Linked DNA regions of Homo sapiens. The protein of the gene in region 2 interacts with the protein of the main gene of each other region in a biochemical or structural test. Each region holds a gene or a part of one and is shown on either strand. Other genes may lie near its edges.

Region 1 (3,434 bases), on a different chromosome or scaffold from region 2:
TGAAACCCTGTCTCTACTAAACACACAAAAATTAGCCTGTAATCCCAGCTACTCAAGAGGCTGAGACAGGAGAATTGCTTGAACCCAGGAGGCGAAGGTTGCAGTGAGCCAAGATCATGCCACTGCACACTAGCCTGGGCAGCAAGAGTGAAACTCCATCTCAACAAAAGAAAAAAAAAACCTATGCTTCCCTTCCATATTGTAACCACCTTGACACATTTCCTTCCTTATCACACATTTCCACACATTTGCTTCCTTATCTCTTTCACTGAGTTTTTTCTCCATCATTCTTAAGTCCAGGAAGAAAAGGGCTATGCAAATTCCTACTCACCTCAAGCTCCCCCACCCCTTACTTTCTCTAAGTGTCCACAAAATTAAAGTTTTATCTTCGAGAGGCAGAACTTAAGTGATTGTACCTACCCATTCTATTTCCTCCCACATTATAAAAATGATGCAAGACTTTATTCCTACTCCACATCAACGCCAGAGGATCACACAACTACAAATTCCCATGTTTTACTCAAGGGTAATCATGTCAAGGGTGAAGCATGGAAGCTTTACTGAGAAATATTTTGCCCATATTCCTTCAGACTTTCCCAGTTTCATAATGTGATTTTTACCTAAATTGAACCTGCAAAGCTCAAAAGTACATAATTGATTATATTTACTTTCAATATAATCAGTAATTGATCCATGACTCCTAACTGGCAATATCCACTCCACCAACCCAAGAATAAATATTTACCTTAAGTTCTAACTAGCTACTTTGGGAAGCTGGGGAAGCACAGGAAAAATAATGGGCTACAAGACCAACACCATGATGACTCACATAAGTGAAATATATCTAACTACACATAACACACATGCTTCAAAAAAGACAGGCCAACAATGCCTAAACTCTTTATTTCACCAACCAGTATTTCTGATTTTCTTCTTGATACTGGATTTTAAAACCTTAGAAGTCTATAAATACTGCATTCAGACTTTCCACATCAAGAGAAAGGGGACCAGGGCAGAAGATGTCAGGCCCCATGCTGTTTTGGGGTGGGAAAAGTGGCAAAGAATTCTCAACAGCCTGTGTCAGTTTTCTAACTTAATTGAAACACCTTTAAGCTCTCCTTCATCCCCAAACTTTCCCCTATGGTGTCTATGATAGAAAAACACTTCTCTCTCATATATGTCCCATCACTAGGGAGCCAGGGGGAAGGGAGTGGGCATTACACAGGCAAGCCAAACTTTTTATTCAGCCAGAAAATGGATTTCTGATTCAGTTTAATGGTAAGGAGTTGTGTAAAACCGTACCAAGTCCTGCTTCTTCCTCAGAGTGAGCTGGGCTGCATTTTTGTGACTGGAAGCATTTCTCATAATGGTGAATTAAGCACTATAAAAAAATAAAGTCAATCCCATCTCTATGAGTAGCATAAGAGCTGCTTCCAAGAACCCAGGGATGCCCACATCCCATAACCCACCCAGACACGGCCAATTCCTCATAGACAGCTACATAAAACCCTTTCGTCAACTTGTTTTGGGGGGTGAGAGAGAGGCAGTGCTTAGGGAAGATGTAGGATGGATTTTTTTTATTCCTGCCACTACCAAAAACTATAAATCTACACACACACTCACACGCACATACATGTCCATTTTTAAGAAAGCTTTTCCTCCCTGTGACTACAGGAACCCAGAATCCAGCCTCCCTCAGGCTGAGAGACGATGCCTATTAACGGCACAGATCTAGCATATCAACATACTATAGAAGGCTCCTGTGTTGTCTCACAAGCTGAGAGGGCAGGGCAAAGAAGTGGACACTCATGGGGGACTTGCTTTTTGTCTTAAATCCAATCTACTCAGTAACACTTGCAGGTCCAGGGGCTGGGAGAGGTTCTGTGGGCACAACGTGGTGGACGACCTGATGGTCCCAGCCCACTGTGGTAAGCAGGGAGTGATTGAGCGGGGACCAAGTCGCATCTCTCACAAAGTCTCTGTGGGCTTGGCTTCTAAACCTAGAAGAAAGAAAAAAAGTCGGGGCAGAGTAGAGACAAGAAAAGCAGACCTGGAGAAAAAAAGAGAACCCAACACATCTGGGGCACATTTTTTGGGTGTGTTACACACATTTCACCAACTGTATGGCCTCATCGCCAGGATAGCAGTGTAGCTATCCACAGTGGATGTCATCAGTCATCCAATCCAGTCTTCTATTTTCATAGATGAAGAAATGCTGGATAGAACAAGACAGTGATGAGGGGCAGTAACAGGCAGCAAATCACGGCAAGGAGGGAAGTACAATTCAGGTCTTCCAGGTGCTGCCTTTTACCCTGTAGCAGGCTGCATTTCATACGCAGTTCTTTATGTGAGAGGGTAGACTGCCGCCCCCTTGTGGGAGAGCGCTGGAGGGCTAGACTTAAAAATTTCACCTACCACCCCCCTCTACCAAGGACACGGCTTGTCCTTGGGGTTGTGAATGTGCCCCAGGAATGGACAGGGTCAACAGCCAGCCTGCTTCCATTACCAAGTCCCTTCGGATACAGATGGAGAATCTGTTCTCCAAAAGCACAACACAGTTTTCTGAAGAGGAAAATGACTCGCCCACCCACTGCTCCCCTTCCCTGATTCCCAAAGGATTCCACTTCACACTTACAACTCAGAAAGGCTTGAGTCCAGCACAGCAAGTGAGCAGTCTTCACTGAGAGAGGCCAGGAAGGGAACACTATCAGATGGAGGAGAGGGTTGTGAAAGGTCCAGCCTGGATCCCAAGACAAAACCTTAACTGGGCCGGCCCTGCCGCCACTGTAAAGTGACCCAGGAGAGGCAGCCTGATTCCCACTTTTGGCTAATCTGGCTACTACAAGTCCACACTAAAAGTTTCAAGTAAAGATGAGGGAAATGAAGCAAAGTTAGGGTTGACAACCATCCTGGCAACTAACCACCCCATCTGGTCCCTCTCTATAGCTTCAGCAATAACCCAGAAACACAGGCTTTTCCAATCTCACAGTCCTAGAAGCCCACAACATTAACCATTTTGGGTGTTGGGCAGGAATGAAATCACATTTTAGCCATTTCAGACAGAAACCATCTAATCTGAAAAATCCTTTGACTCCCAAAGGATTCTACTTCACACTTAAGAGATCTTCGATGTTCCGAAACCTCAGCTAGAACACTGTCTGCTTTAAGGAACTACTTCATCAGCTAATGCTTTGAAAACATACACACACACCCTCACGGTTCCCATTTATACCCATCAGGCCCCTGATGACAAAGAACAGTACCTGTGTGGGGAGAACACCAGCCCAGTGACACACTGGGAGTGTACAGCTGAGCTCAGGACACAGCTTGTACTCTTGGTGTCCACAAGGGAGACTGTCCCATTCTCATCACCTGTAGAAGAGAAGGAACATGTCATAGTGATTAAGAGCATGGACTTTTGTGCCAAAGACTTG
Region 2 (4,023 bases):
ATAAACAGATGTCTACTTCATTTACTAAGTGTTAAAGATACTTAATTTTTTACCATAAACCCATAAAACCAAAATTTGTCCTAAAATGTATTTAAATACTGGTATTTTCTAAGCATCTCTATAAAATAGCTAGTAAAAGCACAGAAGACAGATTACTAGTCTAGCAATTCTAAAAGAGCTGGCCTAAGAGAAAATATTTATTTCTCAAAAATATGCCTATTTTCCTTAGCAATATCTAATATCTGTTCAAAGAAATGGGGCCAGGCGTGGTGGCTCACACTTGTAATCCCGGCACTTTGGGAGGCCGAGGCAAGTGGATCATGAGGTCAGGAGATTTAGACCATCCTGGCTAACACGGGGAAACCCCATCTCTACTAAAAATACAAAAAAAAAAAAAAATTAGCCGGGCATGGTGGTGGGCGCCTGTAGTCCCAGCTACTCGGGAGGCTGAGGCAGGAGAATGGCATGAACCCAGGAGGCGCAGCTTGCAGTGAGCCGAGACTGCGCCACTGCACTCCAGCCTGGGAGACAGCGAGACTCCATCTCAAAAAAAAAAAAAAGAAATGGGCCAGGCACAGTGACTCATGTCTGTAATCCCAGCACTTTGGGAGGCTGAAGCAGAAGGATCACTGGAGCCCAGGAGTTCGAGACCAGCCTGGGCAACACAGTGAACACAGTGAGACCTCGTCTCTACAAAACAACAACAAAAATTAGCCAGCACGTGCATCTGTGGTCCTAGCTACGCAAGAGCCTGAGGCAGGAGGATCACTTGAGCCCAGGAGTTCAAGGCTACAGTCAGCTACGACTGCACGACAGCACTCCAGCCTTGGTGATAGAGTGAGACAGTCTCAAGTGAAAAAAATGAAAAAAGAAATTTATCAACTGTTTGGAAAAGCAGTACATTTCTTAGAAAAAATACATTAGAAGTATTTACATCTAACCACCTATTTCATATAACATTACTGTATTTCAGGCTTTCAAAGCAATTACTAAAAACTTCGTTTTTTAAGAAAAGTAAATAAACTTGCGTTTTTAAAGGAATTTGGTCTGCTTTTAAAATCAGTGGAGCATCTTTACCAATTAAAGGCATTTTTAATTGAATATAATTTTGTGTATTATGTGACCAACTCTGTACAAGGCACTGGACAGAATGATGATCCTTTTGCAGCTAGTAATTTATGAGGCATATTAGTATCACTTACAGTGACTTTACATATGTAAGAACAAAGGGGTAGAAACACAGCTGAGGAGTACACCGAGTGATTAAGAGAAGGCTTCAAGGAGGAAAGCTATTTGAGTTGGGTATTGAAGTATGAGTTTTACAGGTTTGTAAGGATAAGGGAAAAGGGGGAGGGAAGAATGGCACAGCAACACCATTCTAAAGTGAATGTAGAACAAAGAAAATGAGACATGAAAGGACTTAAGTACCAGAAAATACGAGTTCAATGCTACAGAAGTATATAGCTTAAATGCAACTGGAAAAAAGAAATGGTGGCAGGTATAAAGACTACAGACTTCAGGGTCTGAATGTAAATGTCTTTACATGACAAACTAAGGAATTAAAATTGGATCTAAGTCTCAAGTATGAATCATGCAAGGAGAGAAGAGAAAGAGATGAGATTGGATCTGATAGTATAAGCCATAGCAAACGTATAGCTTTCCAAAAAGAGATATGACATGATTGATTTTATAGGAAAATGACACTAGCAGCAATTTGGATCTTGGACTATAGTGAGAGACCAACCAGCTACTATCCAAATCAGAAATAATGGCCAAAAGTGTTGACAGTGAGGATGAAGAAAAAAACAGATGAAAAGCAGCAGCATGGCCAGGTAAGGTGGCTCACGCCTATAATCCCAGCACTTTGGGAGGCCGAGGCAGGTGGATCACCTGAGGTTGGGAGTTCGAGACCAGCCTAACCAACATGGAGAAACCCCATCTCTATTAAAAATACAAAATCAGCCAGGCGTGGTGGTGCATGCCTGTAATCCCAGCTACTCAGGAGGCTGAGGCAGGACAATCGCTGGAACCCAAGAGGCGGAGGTTGCAGTGAGCTGAGATCGCACAATTGCACTCCAGCCTGGGCAACAAGAGCAAACTCCATCTCAAAAAAAAAAAAGAAAAGAAAAAAGAAAAGCAGCAGCTACATGTAGTAGAATCTACAGTCCTGCACTCCCACTTTGTAAATGTCCTGTATATGTGATAATTTCCCTTTTCCATATTTTTTTTTGGTATAAATGCACTTTTGGCATGCAAAAAGGTTTATACAGTAAGTTATCAAGACTGGAGGTAAGATGGCCTTTTTTTGTTTTTCCTCCCATGGTATTAGGAAGGAAAATGCAAGAACTCTTGAGTTAGATGTGGATTACAGGCTATCTCTGCTGTGACACTATGAGCATGACAGTTAACCTCTCAAAGCTCTAGGTTTCTCATTTGTAAAAAGAGGAAATTGAACTAGATGATCTAAAACTTTGGAAAGTTCTAATCCTCTGATGATACTGACAAATCTTTAATCTTCTGTAAGTGTCCAACAAAAATGCAAATACAATAATCTAACTACAAACCGATTGTGAAAAACCCATCAAACACAGGCAAATACTATTGTACCTATTAGCTATATGCATCTACATGTACTCATTGTGAAGAATTTCATGACATACATTAAGTTATGTAGTCATCAACCACTCATTTGAAACCCTGACAAAACAAACTCTGTAAGCTGTGTCAGCCATGCAAGGCACCACGCTCGGCTAATTTTTGTATTTTTAGAAGAGACGGGGTTTCGTCTTGTTGGCCAGGCTGGTCTCCTGGTCTCAGGTGATCCACCTGCCTCGGCTTCCCAAAGTGCTGGGATTAAAGGTGTGAGCCACGGCGCCCGGCCAACAAAAGAACTTTTTAACAATATTCCTTTATCGATCAAATTTTTAAATGTTTCTAACTGGAAAAATGCAGTCTTGAAATTTGTAACCATAAATTGTCATGTGCGACTTCTTAATAATGAAGAAAATTTATTTTATGAATTCTTGCTTGTATTAAAAAGTTCAGAAATATTCTGAACTTGTTTCTCTTCAAGAGTAACATTTGGCTGGGTGTGGTGGCATGAGCCTGTAATGCCAGCACTTTGGGAAGCCAGGAGTTCAAGACCAACCTGAACAACACAGCAAGACCCTGTCTGTAAAACGAAAAAACAAAAAAAGAACAACTTTTAAACCGGATTTTTTTTTTTTTTTAAAGTAAAAGAGAGTTGGAGGTCCAGCATGATGGCTCACACTTGTAATCCCAGCATTTTGGGAGGCTGAGACAGGAAGATCACTTGAGCCCAGGAGTTCAAGACTAGCTCTGGCAACACAGCAAGACCCGGTCTCTACAAAAAATATTCAAAAGTATAAATATTAAATAAAAAGGAGAGTTGGGTCAAAAGCCTCTCTTCCTGCAAAACAAAAAGGTGAACAAATAACTTTTTTTTTTTTTTGAGACAGAGTCTCGCTCTGTCGCCCTGGCTGGAGTGCAGTGGCGGGATCTCGGCTCACTGCAAGCTCCACCTCCCGGGTTCACGCCATTGTCCTGCCTCAGCCTCCCGAGCAGCTGGGACTACAAGTACCCGCCACCATGCCCGGCTAATTCCTTTTGTATTTTTAATAGAGACGGGGTTTCACCATGTTCACCAGGATGGTCTCGATCTCCTGACCTCGTGATCCACCCGCCTCGGCCTCCCAAAGTGCTGGGATTACAGGCGTGAGCCACCGCACCCGACCCAGAGAATATTTTTAATTAAAGGTGAAAAACTCAGATGTAAATCTTGCATTTCCAGCCTCTTATAAATTTGTGATATAATTAATATTGCCTAAAGTCATACTTCAAGGGAAATAACATTTTGCTAACTGTAGTATTAAACTTTTCTAATGATATTTTATTTCTTCTAATGTTTCTTCTAAAGACCTGAACAATGTTTTGGTTATATACTACATTATATATACCAGAATCATTTATCTTTAATGTAACCTATGTGATTTCTGGCTCCCT

What was found.
Region 1: the proteins of CDK19 (region 2) and WDR77 form a complex in vitro, tested with the Homo sapiens proteins (one study listed by BioGRID).

What each region holds. Positions count from the first base shown.
Region 1 is NC_000001.11:111,439,390-111,442,823, forward strand, and holds the end of WDR77 (methylosome protein WDR77), read right to left. Parts: intron 3,373-3,434; coding exon 3,264-3,372; intron 2,741-3,263; coding exon of another isoform or gene 2,705-2,740; coding exon 2,636-2,704; intron 2,001-2,635; coding exon 1,841-2,000; 3' UTR 501-1,840; downstream 1-500. UniProt on the Homo sapiens protein: Non-catalytic component of the methylosome complex, composed of PRMT5, WDR77 and CLNS1A, which modifies specific arginines to dimethylarginines in several spliceosomal Sm proteins and histones.
Region 2 is NC_000006.12:110,808,667-110,812,689, forward strand, and holds part of CDK19 (cyclin-dependent kinase 19), read right to left. Parts: intron 1-4,023.